Regions from separate parts of the Homo sapiens genome. Here regions 2 and 3 are each linked to region 1. The links come from fine-mapping of genetic effects on gene expression. A gene starts in region 1. Each other region holds a variant in brackets. All regions are shown on one strand. Distances are from middle to middle. Region 1 holds the start of CHURC1 (churchill domain containing 1). Region 2 overlaps CHURC1-FNTB (CHURC1-FNTB readthrough). Region 3 overlaps LOC105370534 (a long non-coding RNA gene).

Evidence for each region. PIP is the estimated chance that this variant, and not a neighbour inherited with it, causes the effect.
Region 2: its variant is fine-mapped to the expression of CHURC1 in whole blood (INTERVAL, PIP above 0.99).
Region 3: its variant is fine-mapped to the expression of CHURC1 in whole blood (INTERVAL, PIP above 0.99).

What each region holds. Positions count from the first base shown.
Region 1 is chr14:64,912,692-64,916,933 of GRCh38, forward strand. It overlaps CHURC1 (churchill domain containing 1), which reads left to right and starts at 1,764. Exons shown (of 4, transcript NM_001386928.1): 1 at 1,764-1,843. The coding sequence starts at 1,805. CHURC1-FNTB (CHURC1-FNTB readthrough) reads left to right here and starts at 1,670. Exons shown (of 14, transcript NM_001202559.1): 1 at 1,670-1,843. The coding sequence starts at 1,724. RefSeq lists enhancers at 1,564-1,613, 1,764-2,033.
Region 2 is chr14:64,936,235-64,940,476 of GRCh38, forward strand. All of the region lies in intron 3 of CHURC1-FNTB (CHURC1-FNTB readthrough), which reads left to right. GPX2 (glutathione peroxidase 2) reads right to left here. Exons shown (of 2, transcript NM_002083.4): 2 at 2,924-3,604. The coding sequence ends at 3,254. Among named protein-coding and RNA genes, the nearest start is that of GPX2, 4.4 kb to the right of the region's middle. The variant G/A (reference allele first, on the strand shown) is at 2,430.
Region 3 is chr14:64,885,369-64,889,610 of GRCh38, forward strand. LOC105370534 (a long non-coding RNA gene) reads right to left here. Exons shown (of 3, transcript XR_943942.3): 2 at 555-622. Among named protein-coding and RNA genes, the nearest start is that of SPTB, 7.6 kb to the left of the region's middle. The variant TTTTGTTTG/T (reference allele first, on the strand shown) is at 2,643.

The DNA of each region.
Region 1 (4,242 bases):
TGTTTCTTAGCACACCTATGATTTTTAATAACAGTTGCAGATACTTACTAGAAGTTGAAATACTAAAGGTTACAACTTCAGTGCTTCCGTGGAAAAATAATTCCCATATTAGCAAACCCATTTAAACTGGTGTGCTTTGAAATGGTTATTAATCTCTTCTTTAAGGAATCTGGATCCCAGAGTCTCCCAGGCTCCCCAATCTTTCTTCCCTGACATGACAGCAATAAAGCAGGGCTGAGGGAGGATGTTGATGTTCCCATTGGGGTAGAGGAGTGTGATAAAGACGCATTGTTCAGAAACAGAGACAAACTTCGGAGATTCGTCTGCAAGTTAATTAGGTCGTTGCGAATAAATAAGATGCTTTCAATACAGAGAGAAAGGATGAGGCGGGGCAACAAGCACAAGCATTTTGAGACCCACAGGATTGGGAAATGATGCAGGAACAACTGACCTGGCCATTTTTCTTTCTTTCTTTCTTTTCTTGGAAGCACATATGTTTATTGGTTTTTTAATCTGTGAACCAATAGGTCATTTATAAATGGATGTGCAAATCTGAAATCAAAATATCTGCAGTCAATTCAATTAGATAATTTTTGAAATCTATTTATTTTTAATATACTTTAAGTTCTAGGGTACATGTGCACAACGTGCAGATTTGTTACCTATGTATAGATATGCCATGTTGGTGTGCTGCACACATTAACTCGTCATTTACATTAAGTATATCTCCTAATGCTATCCCTCCCCCCTCCCCCCACCCCACGACAGGCCCCGGTGTGTGGTGTTCCCCACCCTGTGTCCAAGTGTTCTCATTGTTCAATTCCCACCTATGAGTGAGAACATGCGGTGTTTGGTTTTCTGTCCTTGCGATAGTTTGCTCAGAATGACGGTTTCCAGCTTCATCCGTGTCCCTACAAAGGACATGAACTCATCCTTTTTTATGGCTGCATAGTATTCCATGGTATATATGTGCCACATTTTCTTAATCCAGTCTATCATTGATGGACATTTGCATTGGTTCCAAGTCTTTGGTATTCTGAATAGTGCCACAATAAACATACATGTGCATGTGTCTTTATAGCAGCATGATTTATAATCCTTTGGGTATATACCCAGTAATGGGATGGCTGATGACCTGGCCATTTTTCTATTTACATAGTGCTTGCCCGCCACTGAGGTGCTTCTGTGACACCTGAGAGAGATAGAAATACGTTCCTCGTTGCTATGTCCTCCAGAGGACTCTGGAATGACCAATTATTACTAATATTTTAAGTGTTTTTTTAGGAGATTTTCTGCAGCACTCTGAGTGTCTCTTCCCAAACACTTCGGTTACTGTTTATTCACCTGCTGAGATCTGGTCTCTTATTCACTCTCATTGCCTTAAGAAATGGTACAGAAATGTATTCATTAACATTTCAGATTTGTATATGCGGTAGCGAGAAATAATTCCCTTTCTTGTGTGTCGTGATTTGCCTTTCTTGTCAGCCTAAGCTCAGGAAGGTGTCTGTGAGAACTTCGCTCAGCCCAAGATCCCTTTCCCTTCCCGTCACATCTGTTAGCGCACAAGATTTCTTCGTCTGTCTCCAAAGGTTTCTGAAGCCCCACCCTTTGCCCACGCACGGTGCCAAGGAGACTGTGCCCTGCCTTGACAACAGTTGCTAAGGGGCGGAGACTTCGGCTCGGTTCCCGAGACGGAATACCCAGGAGTCGAGTACTTGGGCGCATGCGGCAACCGTATCTCAGTTCTCGCGAGGTTTCGTCTTCCCGGAAGCGTTGGAGGACATTCCCTGTTGACTGCGTCGCGATGTGTGGCGACTGTGTGGAGAAGGAATATCCCAACCGGGTGAGCGACTGGGCGCTCCCTTGGCCCGCGGGCGGCCCCCGAGGTGTCTCATATCCAAGGCTGGCCTTCCCAGAGAGGCCGTACGTGGGGCGGACTCGGCCGCACTGCCGGTCCCGGTGACCCAGTAGCGGTATTTAGGCACACCAGGGATGGCCTGTGGCGGTCTGCACCTCTGGTACCCGCCCTGGCGGCTGACCTCAGTTGTAGTGGCCGTTCTCTTGAGCTCCAAGGAGCAACAGAGGAACCCCACCACCACCACAACCCCCGTCGACAACCGAGGGACTCCCCCACCCCCACTTCCGGTCTCATCCTCAAGCTCGATTTGATGAAGTACAATTTTCTTACCGAATTCTAGCGCTGGAGGGGACCTCTGTGGTCATCTGTTCTAACACTTTTGCAGATGAAGAAACCGATGCCCAGAGAGGGGAAATCACTTGCCCAAGTTCACATTCTAGTTGCATGGATGAGAGCCAGGACTAGAATTTAGGTTTCCTGCCTGTTACCGCCTTCTGAATCTCAGTTACTTTCAGGTTCAGGAGTTTGCAAAGCTTGTCTATTCTCATTCATTCAAGGCATCCTTGTTGAACATTTATATATGTGTAGTTAGATTACTTTGCTAGGCCAGAAAGGGATTATTTCTCCTCTCTTTGAGACAGGGTGCTGCTGTTGCCCAGGCTGGTCTCAAATTCCTGGGATCAAGTGATCCTCCCGCCTTGGCCTCCGAAAGTGCTGGGATTACTGGCATGAGCCACCACGTCCAGCTGGATTATTTGTTTCAGAGAAGAAATTAAAAGGCACCTTTGGTGCTGCCTAACAGCTTACAGTTTTGGGGAGTATGTGACTAACAAAAAATGAGTAGCTCAGTTCAGAAATGCTATTCAAGTTTAGGGAAAGGGGAGGGCAATAGGGGATAGTGCTGTTCTCCCCTGAGAAAAGGTGGACATCATCTAAGACTTGAAGGACAGTTGTAATTAGGGTAGAAAAGAAGGTGAGGAGCTGGAGGATGGGGGAAAATTACAGAAATGGAATTTGTGCATTGGTTGGGAAGGAGGGAGAAAGTCTCTGTAGTTCCTTATGTCTTAGTATCTTATGGGTAATACTTAGGCTTTTGAGTAGCATGTATAACAGTATGAATTCTCCTGTAGTACAACTACTTTGAAAAAGCGGGTGAGCCTTATAAAATACAGACATGACCCAGTGATTCCCATTCTAGAAAAATGCATGTGTATATGCTTCTGAAGACTTTTATAAATAAGTGTTCATAACAGCATTATTTTTGTAGTAGATTGGAAAAGTAACTGATACATTCATTAGAATGGAACACCATTAATGAATGAGGAATGGAAGTGAATGAATTAGAGCAGTAGTTCTCTACCAGGAGTGATTTTTGGCTCTTAGGAGACATTTGGCAATATCCAGAGACATTTTTTGGGTGTCAAAAGGGGAAGTACTACTGACTGCTAATGGGTGATGCAAGGGATGCCGCTAAACATCCAGCAATACATGGGACAGCCACCACAACAAAGTATCACTCCCAATGTCAATAGTGTGGAGGTAGAGAAACCCTGAATTATAGCCGTGAAACCAAACTAGAATTACACAGCAGCCTGAAAAGTCTTACAAATAGTGTTGATGAAAGAACACATAAAGTATAATTCAAAAAGAGGCAAACCAAAATATATTATTCAAGGATGTACCTGGGTGGTAAAACTGTAAGGAACGTATACAATTACTGTTAAGTCGAGATAGTGGTTACTCCTAAGGGATTAGGGTGTGATCAAGAAGGGTCACATGAGAAAAAGTCTTCCCGGGTGCAAGCAGTGTTTTATTTCTTGATTTGGGTGGTGGTTCTACAGATGTACACTTTATAATCATTTCTTGTTCGCTACATTTATGTTTCATGTACTTTACTATGTACTATTTCATTTTTTTAAAGTTTAAAAAGATTTTTATGAAACCAGTAATAAACATGAGCTATTATGAGACCATGAGGGAGGAGTTTGCAGTAGAGAATATTAAAGAGATTAGGTTGGATTCTTTTTTGTTGTTGTTTTTGTTTTTGAGATGGAGTCTTGCTCTGTCGCCCAGGTTGGAGTGCAGTGGCATGATCTCGGCTCACTGCAAGCTCCGCCTCACTGGTTCATGCCATTCTCCTGCCTCAGCCTCCCGAGTAGCTCGGACTGCAGGTGCCCACCACCATGCCCAGCTAATTTTTTTGTATTTTTAGTAGAGACAGGGTTTCGCCTTGTTAGCCAGGATGGTCTCGATCTCCTGACCTCGTGATCCACCTGCCTCGGCCTCCCAAAGTGCTAGGATTACAGGCGTGAGCCACCGCGCCGGGCCTTAGGTTGGATTCTTAAGAGTGGAGTTATTGTAAAACTTAAAAGTCATATTGAGAA
Region 2 (4,242 bases), 24 kb after region 1:
ACCTAGTGTATATAAAGTACCTAGCCCAGTCTGTGCCCATAGTAAATATTAAATGAATGGTAGTTTGGATGATGGTTGTGATGGTGATTATAATAAAGTTCTAGAGTTTGACTCAGTGTTTTTGAGACAAGGTCTCATCCAGGCTGGAGTGCAGTGGTGCAATCATAGCTCACTGCAGCCTCGAACTCCCAGGCGCAAGCAATTCTCCCACCCTAGCTGCCTGAGTAGCTGAAACCATTACAGGTGTACATCACCATGCTCAGCCGATTTTTTTTTTTTTTTTTTAATTTTTTGTAGAGACGAGGTCTCACTGTGTAGCCCAGGCTACATAGTGAGCTCCTGGGCTCAGGCCATCTTCCCGCCTCAACTTCCCAAAGTGTTGGGATTATAGGCTTGAGCCACCATACTGGGCCTCAGTGTCTCATAAACTAAGGAGAGATAGCTATGGGAACATAGTCATGAAGATAATTATCGATTTCAGTGTCTTTACCCTGGCCTCCTAAAATCACTTGTTCCAAGCTCTGGTTTTTTTGTTTTGTTTTTTGTTTTTGTAAGAGCCCTCAGGTTAGTGATTCTCTCTGTCCCTCCTCTGAGTTGAATAGCATTATCTCAGCACTTCTGGGAGAGTTGTTAAGGAGACTTCCCCCTCCTTCTGGGTGCCCCTAGGGAAATCTGATTAAAAGATTTTTGTTTATCTAGAAAAGTGGGTGATATTTTAAAGCTTTGCCTTGTCTGTTTATGATCACAAGCTAATACTTCTGAGGATGATAAGGGGGACAAACAAGATGAAGAATAAAGGAAAGGAAACACTTTCTAATTTCTCTTCATTTTAACAACAGCACAACTAAATATTTGGTAAACCTAAACATCCTTTTAAAATAGAATCTTCCAGTCTTGCCTTCCCTGTTTCCTCCTGAGCTGAATAGATCAGGTTCTGTCTGAAGCAAATAGTGTTTCCCCTCCCAAGTGAAGAGCCTTCATTCTAGCTTTATGGCCTTCTCTTGACTTTCTGCAGAATAACTTATACTGTAATTCCCATTCCTTTGGGAATCCCTAAATAATTCTTTGAACTTGGGCCTCAAGGGAAAGACTGAACACATTGTACTGGTGTCTCAGGCTCTAAGTTGCCTGTGGCATGTTTCCAACACCCGAGATAGCTGGCTCTGTTACTGGATGTAACAACAGGCTATGGTACTGTCAAGGTGATGACTAGCATCCAAGAAGAATTCTCTATTTTGTCAGGAAAGCAATTTGTCTGCAGTTACTGCTCTAAAATCAGTACATGGTCCTGCCCCATAATAATTCATACCCCAGCTGTTGACTTTAAGAGCAGGAATCTGAAAGGCTTGAGGTTTCAAGAGTGAAGGTAAGGGTAGCCTTAAGTTAGCAGAAGGCCCTGCAGAAAGGTGTCAGGGGATTCCCACTGTAATACTCAGGTTACCCTTTTGAAATAAAGCACTGTTGTTGACAGGTTTAGTTGAAGGTCAGAAAGTGGGGATCCTAAACATCTATTCCACATTCACTCTCATATGATGCAAGTGCTTAGAAAATGGTTAGGGTAAGCAGAACAATTAAAGGAAAAACATTTTCCCTTCAGCATTGGGCTTCTCAAGCAGTGTGTCCAGTTTGGAAAACTGTCCCTTCAGGGTTTCAGTGAATAGAAGTGAAAATATTCCATCTAGTGGTCAAAGAAGGGAAGATGAAATGAGAAGTTTCCAGGATGAGGTCTGTGGGGCAAGGTGACAGGCAGTGGCCTCTCAGCAGGTATCTTTTCCAGAACATGATAGAACCTGACCTTGGCGGTGGTGATATGTTTTGATTATGTCTGCACTGGATGAGGAATTGGGGACACCATCCTTGCAAGGCCTCTGAGCAAAACTGTCCTCACAGTGAGGAATAATGATGTTGCAAATGGCAGATTATAAACAGCCTGACTCTGAAGGGAGGCTCTCTCCCATCCCCAACCCCTTCCTTCTTACAGAGGAAGAAATGAGTCCAGTCATTCCTGCCTCTATTTGTCTGGAGCCTGAATTTGTGAATATGTGATTTTGAGAAGAATGAGGGTGTAATGTGAACTTTATTTATTTATTTTGAGACGGAGTCTCACTCTGTCGCCCAGGCTGGAGTGTAGTGGCGCCGCCATCTTGGCTCACTGCAGCCTCCACCTCCCGGGTTCAAATGAGTCTCTCACCTCAGCCTCCTGAGTAGCTGGGATTACAGGCGTGCGCCACCACACCTGGCTAATTTTTTGTATTTTTAGTACAGACAGAGTTTCATCATGTTGGCCAGGCTGGTCTCGAACTCCTGACCTCAAGTGATCCGCCTGTCTCGGCCTCTCAAAGTGCTGGGATTATAGGTGTGAGCCACCACACCCGGGCCATGAACTTTAAAAAGGAGGGAGAATCAGTCTAGCAAAGGATCAAACACCC[G/A]AGATGTTTGATGATCAGGAAAAAGATAAAGTGCTGTTTGTGTTCTCAGTAACTACACCCTCTATGCCCTTGCTATTGGTAAACATTAACTAAGCTGACTGCCCAGGAATTTCCCAAGGCACAAGTCAGATCTAGTTGGCCCAGTACCCACAGTGCTATTGATGCTTCCTGACTGTAATCCTCCTAACAGCCTCCCAATATCCCCAACCAAAGGGCTCATTGTCTTTTCCTCCTCTACCTCCCATTATCACTTTCTCTTTTTCCCCAGTTCTGAAGAAGAGCTGTAAAGGAATAATATAATTCACATTTCCCGTAACTGCACCTGCCACTGCAGACCTTGGCCAGCGCTTGCTTTCCTGTCAGTAATTAGGGCATCCCTTGATCCGTCAGATCCTCCCCTCCCAAAGCTTTGTGTGCTAGCAGCTCCTCTATCCCACCTGCAGTTTGTAGCTTCCCTCCGCCCTCTGTCAAAGAACACACACACAGGCTGGCCGTTTCCACACCTGCCCTTTATTGGTCTCTTCTAGCAGAGTGGCTCCAGGCCCTTCACGCCTCTCAGACACCACCCATGAGGGTTTAGGAAGGTGCCATCATTCTGTGAAGGCCCAGAGCTTACCCAAGTCTTGGAGCCCAAGTTGAATCACCAACCAGAGGGTTGGGAGAGGAAAAGGAAACAGGCAGAGGGGAAAGGCAAGGCTCTGCAGTGAAGGGGACTGATATCAAGGGAATGCTGAGGTCCAGCAGTGTCTCCTGAAGGCATGCTGCATCCTAAGGCTCCTCAGGACTGGATGGAGTAGGAGATCTGTGTGTTGAGCAGTTCACATCTATATGGCAACTTTAAGGAGGCGCTTGATGTCAGGCTCAATGTTGATGGTTGGGAAGGTGCGGCTGTAGCGTCGGAAGGGCTCTCCCTCCGGCCCTATGAGGAACTTCTCAAAGTTCCAGGCCACATCTGAGCGGCGCACAGGGCTCCAAATGATGAGCTTGGGATCGGTCATGAGGGAAAATGGGTCATCATAAGGGTAGGGGAGCTTGTCCTTCAGGTAGGCGAAGACAGGATGCTCGTTCTGCCCATTCACCTCACATTTTTGGACAAGGGTGAAGGTGGGCTGGTATCCACCCCCAGGACGGACATACTTGAGACTGTTCAGGATCTCCTCATTCTGACAGTTCTCCTAGGGGAGGAAAAAGACAAAGTGCGTGGACAGTGGGTGGGGGAAGAGAAAGATCCACAACATGAAACTCTTTCACCCTCCTACACTCCCTCCCCAGGGTCATTCTTTTTCACTGTGAAAGAGAGAGAGACAAGACAGACGAGGTGTTGCTCACTGCAGCCTTGAACTTCTGGGCTCAAGCATTCCTCCTGCTTCAGCCTCTTTAGTAGCTGAGACTACAGACACAGGCCACCATGCCCGGCTAATTTTTTTTTTTTTTTGTAGAGATGGGGTCTCACTTTGTTGCCCATGCTTTGGCTGCTCTTCAAGATTTAGCACTTCTGAGCTGTTGCTTTTGTCTCCAGTCTACCCTGAGCAGTTCTTAAGGTGTTTGAAGCAGAAGAAAGAGAAAAGAGGCTTAGGTTATACTGCTTAGAACCTCCTCTTCAACTAACCTACCGACCCACCTACCCATAAATCCATACCTACACACACACCCCTTTCCTTTCCTCTGCCCTGGTTTTGCCTCGCCTGCTTTCAATTGCACGTGTGTTGAGTATAGCCTTTGCCTCTGCCTACTCAGCTCCTTGAACTGAGGGTGAAATTGAGACCCAGAGGAATGGGATTTACAGCTTCTTGCTTTCTTCTTGCCTTGTCCT
Region 3 (4,242 bases), 27 kb before region 1:
CACACAGGATTAGGTTTTTTGTCACCTCACATGAGCTTGAGTAGATGTAATGGCAGACTTACACTGGGGTATCTGATGAACTGGGACCTGTAGGTGCTAATTCACCTTGTTCCCAAGGCTGTATTAATTTGCTAGGGCTCCCATGACAAAGTACCATATGCTGGGTGACTCAAACACAAAAATTAATTTTCTTACAGTACTAGGGTCTAGAAGTCCAAGATCAAGGTTTCGGCAGGGTTGATTTCTTCTGAAGCCTCTCTCCTTGGCTTGTAGAGGGCTATCTTTTCCCTCTGTCTTCACATAGTCTCCACTTTGTGTGCACCTATGTCCTACTCTCTTTTTTTTTTTTATGGACATGAGTTATATTTGGTTAGGGCCCATCCATATGACCTCAGTTTTACTTTCACTACCTCTGTAAAGCCTTATCTCCAAATACAGTCACTTTCTGAGGCATTGAGATCTAAGACTTCAACATGTGAATTTAGGGGGATACAATTAAGTCCATCACACAGCCTCATCTTTTCTCACAATGAATTGCTTCTGGAGCCTCTTACCTGTTCATCCGTTCTCCAGTTTCCCTCTCCTTCAATTCTGCTTCCACATAGTAGCCAAAGTACACTTTCTAAAAAGGAAGGTTGGTCTTGTCACTCTGCTTCTTTAAATCAGCCAGTGGCTCCCCATTGCTTTCAGGATATAGTTTTAAGATTCCTGGCACTTAGCATAGTATCTGACACAAAAGATATACTTAATAAAGGCCTAATGAGCAAATGAGTAAATAAATGAATGAACACATTATGGAAATTAAAGGAGGTTGCAATCTTGGAGATCAACCAAAGAACAGGTAATTCAAAAAGTCATTTCTATTTGGCTTAAAAATGCATATTTGTGATTTTTTTCAGGAGATTAACTTTCCTATCTATGTTCGAATAAGGTTATTTAAATGAATTCACATTCCCTGAAACATAGCTGGCAATATTTGTGCCTGAATTTCACCAGGTCCTCAGCTACCCTGATGCATCCATACCTAACTTATTGTCAATGGGTGAGAAATGGAGTGAATCGAGTAGGTTTTATGCTCACAGTTACCACTGAGCTCATCTATGGAGGCAGGGGTCTGCCATCTTCCAACGTCTTTATAACAAGGGATAGCAAACACAATAATGATGATTCGGTTAGCTTTTGTCTCTGTCTGCTCCACCCTCTCAGTGTCATTTTCAGTCCTCATCCTTGGGCAATGGCCCTGCTCCAACTCCCATACTCCAATATGCCAAAGCCTTGAGTACACAGGATTAAGAACATAGGAAGATGAATCCAAACGCATTATAAGGAGTGAGTTAATGTTGTTTTGATATTAACACTCTACCTTGAGTACTCCAGACAGTGGGTAGTCTGCAAGTAGACAACTGAGAGTAACTAACCATGAAAACTTTGTTCTCTTCCTTTATTAATATTTATCAAGCCAGAAACTCAAATCAAGGGTAGAAAATATAATTTTAAAAAATCAAATTTGTTAATATGGAATGACAGCTGGAGTTCTAACAGTTTAACCAATAAAACAATTTTGTGTTTATATGATAATTACTGCCAGCATAAATGGTCTTGTTAATTGCTTTTATTTGTTAGTGAGCAGTTTCCAAATTCACAAATATTTGTTCTTAATATTAACCAAGACCTTTGGGAAATTTTCAATAAAGTTTGGAAAGACATTGCAATAAAAGACTCCATTACTTCTGCAAATTCATCTCATTTTCTTTTCTATTGGATATTTCTACAGCTGCTCAATTTCTGTTTGGATATTTCTTCAATGATTTAAGGTCTGGTCTACAAGAAACTATGATTCAATTCAAACATATGTTTTATAGAATTCATACAGAATATAACTGGGTCTTCTCAGAAATATCATTTTCCTCATTTTTTTGGTATGAAAAATTCTATTTTTAAAAGTGCATTTATCATTTTCTCTCTTCCAAATGCCTTATGTCATTTTTATTCAATTTCATGAAGTAAATTGCTATCATTATCCTTACTGCTATATTAAGAAATTAAGAAAGAGTTTAAGTAGTTTTACAAAGATCACATAGAAATCCAAATCTCTGCTTATTAAAGCATCATTTATTCAAGGAGCAGTATCTCATGATTTTTAAATTAACAAATCCCATGATATGTAATGTAGATGATTCATACTATAACCTAATATTTTAAGTCATTAATTAAGTCAAGAATTTAGCCCCACATTATGCTAAGCATGTAGAGTAACAACTCTGTGCTGCTTGTTCTATTCCATCTCCATCTTAGTAATCAAAATGCACTTACGCACCCAGCTCTTGACCTTCCATAGCAGAAACTGAACCAAAGGAAAGCTGTAGACCCTTCTTTTGGGAGGAGTTCCAAACTGTGAGTGGGCATTTGTTTTCCATCACTGACCCCAACTGCTGCCTAACTCTATTTCTCCACCCTTACCCTTCTCCTCAAATAAATACTGCCAGGCATAAACAGGTATATGTTTATGCCTGTTTATGGCATAAACAGCCCCATATAACACCAGCCCCATATATTTCAAATACTCAGCATATCCCTATCCTGCCTTCATTCCAAAGAATGTACTGGAATCTGCTAACTTATTTCATAACTAAAAACAAATC[TTTTGTTTG/T]TTTGTTTGTTTTTGAGACAGAGTTTTGCTCTTGTCATCCAGGCTGGAGTGCAATGGTGAGATCTTGGCTCACTGCAACCTCCGCCTCCCAGATTCAAGTGATTCTCCTGCTTCAGCCTCCCAAGTAGCTGGGATTACAGGTGCCTGCCACCACGCCAGGCTAATTTTGTTGTATTTTTAGTAGAGTCGGGGTTTCACCATGTTGGCCAAGCTGGTCTCGAACTCCTGACCTCAGGTAATCCACCTGCCTAGGCCTCCCAAAGTGCTGGGATTACAGGTGTGAGCCACCACGTCCAGCCTTAAAAGCAAATCTTAAAATGCAATGACCCCGGGAGGAGTTAGCTTTTAAGGTAGGATCTTTTGGCTATTGGCATAAGAAAAAAAAGTCAGTTCCACTTAGTGACATTTTAAGAGCCAAGAATTTTTTTTTTAAGATAGTAGCAGGGTAAACCAGAAAGATCACTAGATGTAAAGGCAAAATACCTGGATTCTACTTCCTCTTAACCTCTCTATATCTCAGCTTCTCTTCTGCGAAATGATGGCATTGAACTAGCTAGTCTCTAAGGATTCTTTTAGCTTTAGCTTTCTATGTTTTACACTTATGCTAAGAACATAGTAGATGTTCATTATAATAATGAAAAATTGGAAATCACTTCAATGTTCATCAAAATGGGATTGGTTAAACCAATTATGGTGTGAACGCATGCACACACACACACACACATAAATTCTATGTAGTCATTTAAGTGATGTGGTTTTATGCTTACTGATAGGGAAAGATGTCATGGCATACTGTTGATTTTTTTTAAGTAGGCTCTAAATAATTTCTATTTGATTAAGAAATAAGACATTTCATATCAGGAAAGATACTCCAAAAAATCTAAGTGATTTCTAGATGGTGAGATTTAGAGTAATTCTTACTTCCTTCTCTATTTTGCTATAAGGTTTGGGTATTTCATAAGCATAGAATATTTTATAATAAATAATAAAGTTGTTTTCAATGTGGGGGAAAATATAGTTAAATATAAATAGCAGATATGAGATCCTTACCTGCGAACAAGCTTTGATAGAGAGGATGGTGAGAACAAGAACAAAACAGCAGTGAACTAAAGGAAAACAAGGTCTGAATATTCTCATCAATAACTCAGATAATGAAATAACCGTGCCCCAAAGGTTAGAAAAAAAAAACTATTCTTTTTATACAAAACCGGCACAGCTGATCTGTTTTGCTCATTCAGGGATCTAATCAAAACCAGCACAGCTGATCTGTTTTGCTCATTCAGGGATCCCATCGCCAGTGTGGAAGATGGAGTTGCCTGACTCATGCTCAGCCCCTTACCAGTCCACCCCATGAGCAATGGGAAGACCTGTCGAGTCATCACACTGGCCATTAGACCAACCTGAGGCTATGGAAAGAAACAATCCTTACTTCGTTTTATGCTGCTATAACAGAATACTATGGATTGGGTAATTTATAATAAACAGAATTTATTTGGCTCATGGTTCTGGAGGCTGGGAAGTCCAAGATTATGGCACCAACATGTGGCGAAGGCCTTCTTGCTGCATCATCTCGTGGTGGAAAGGTGGAAGGG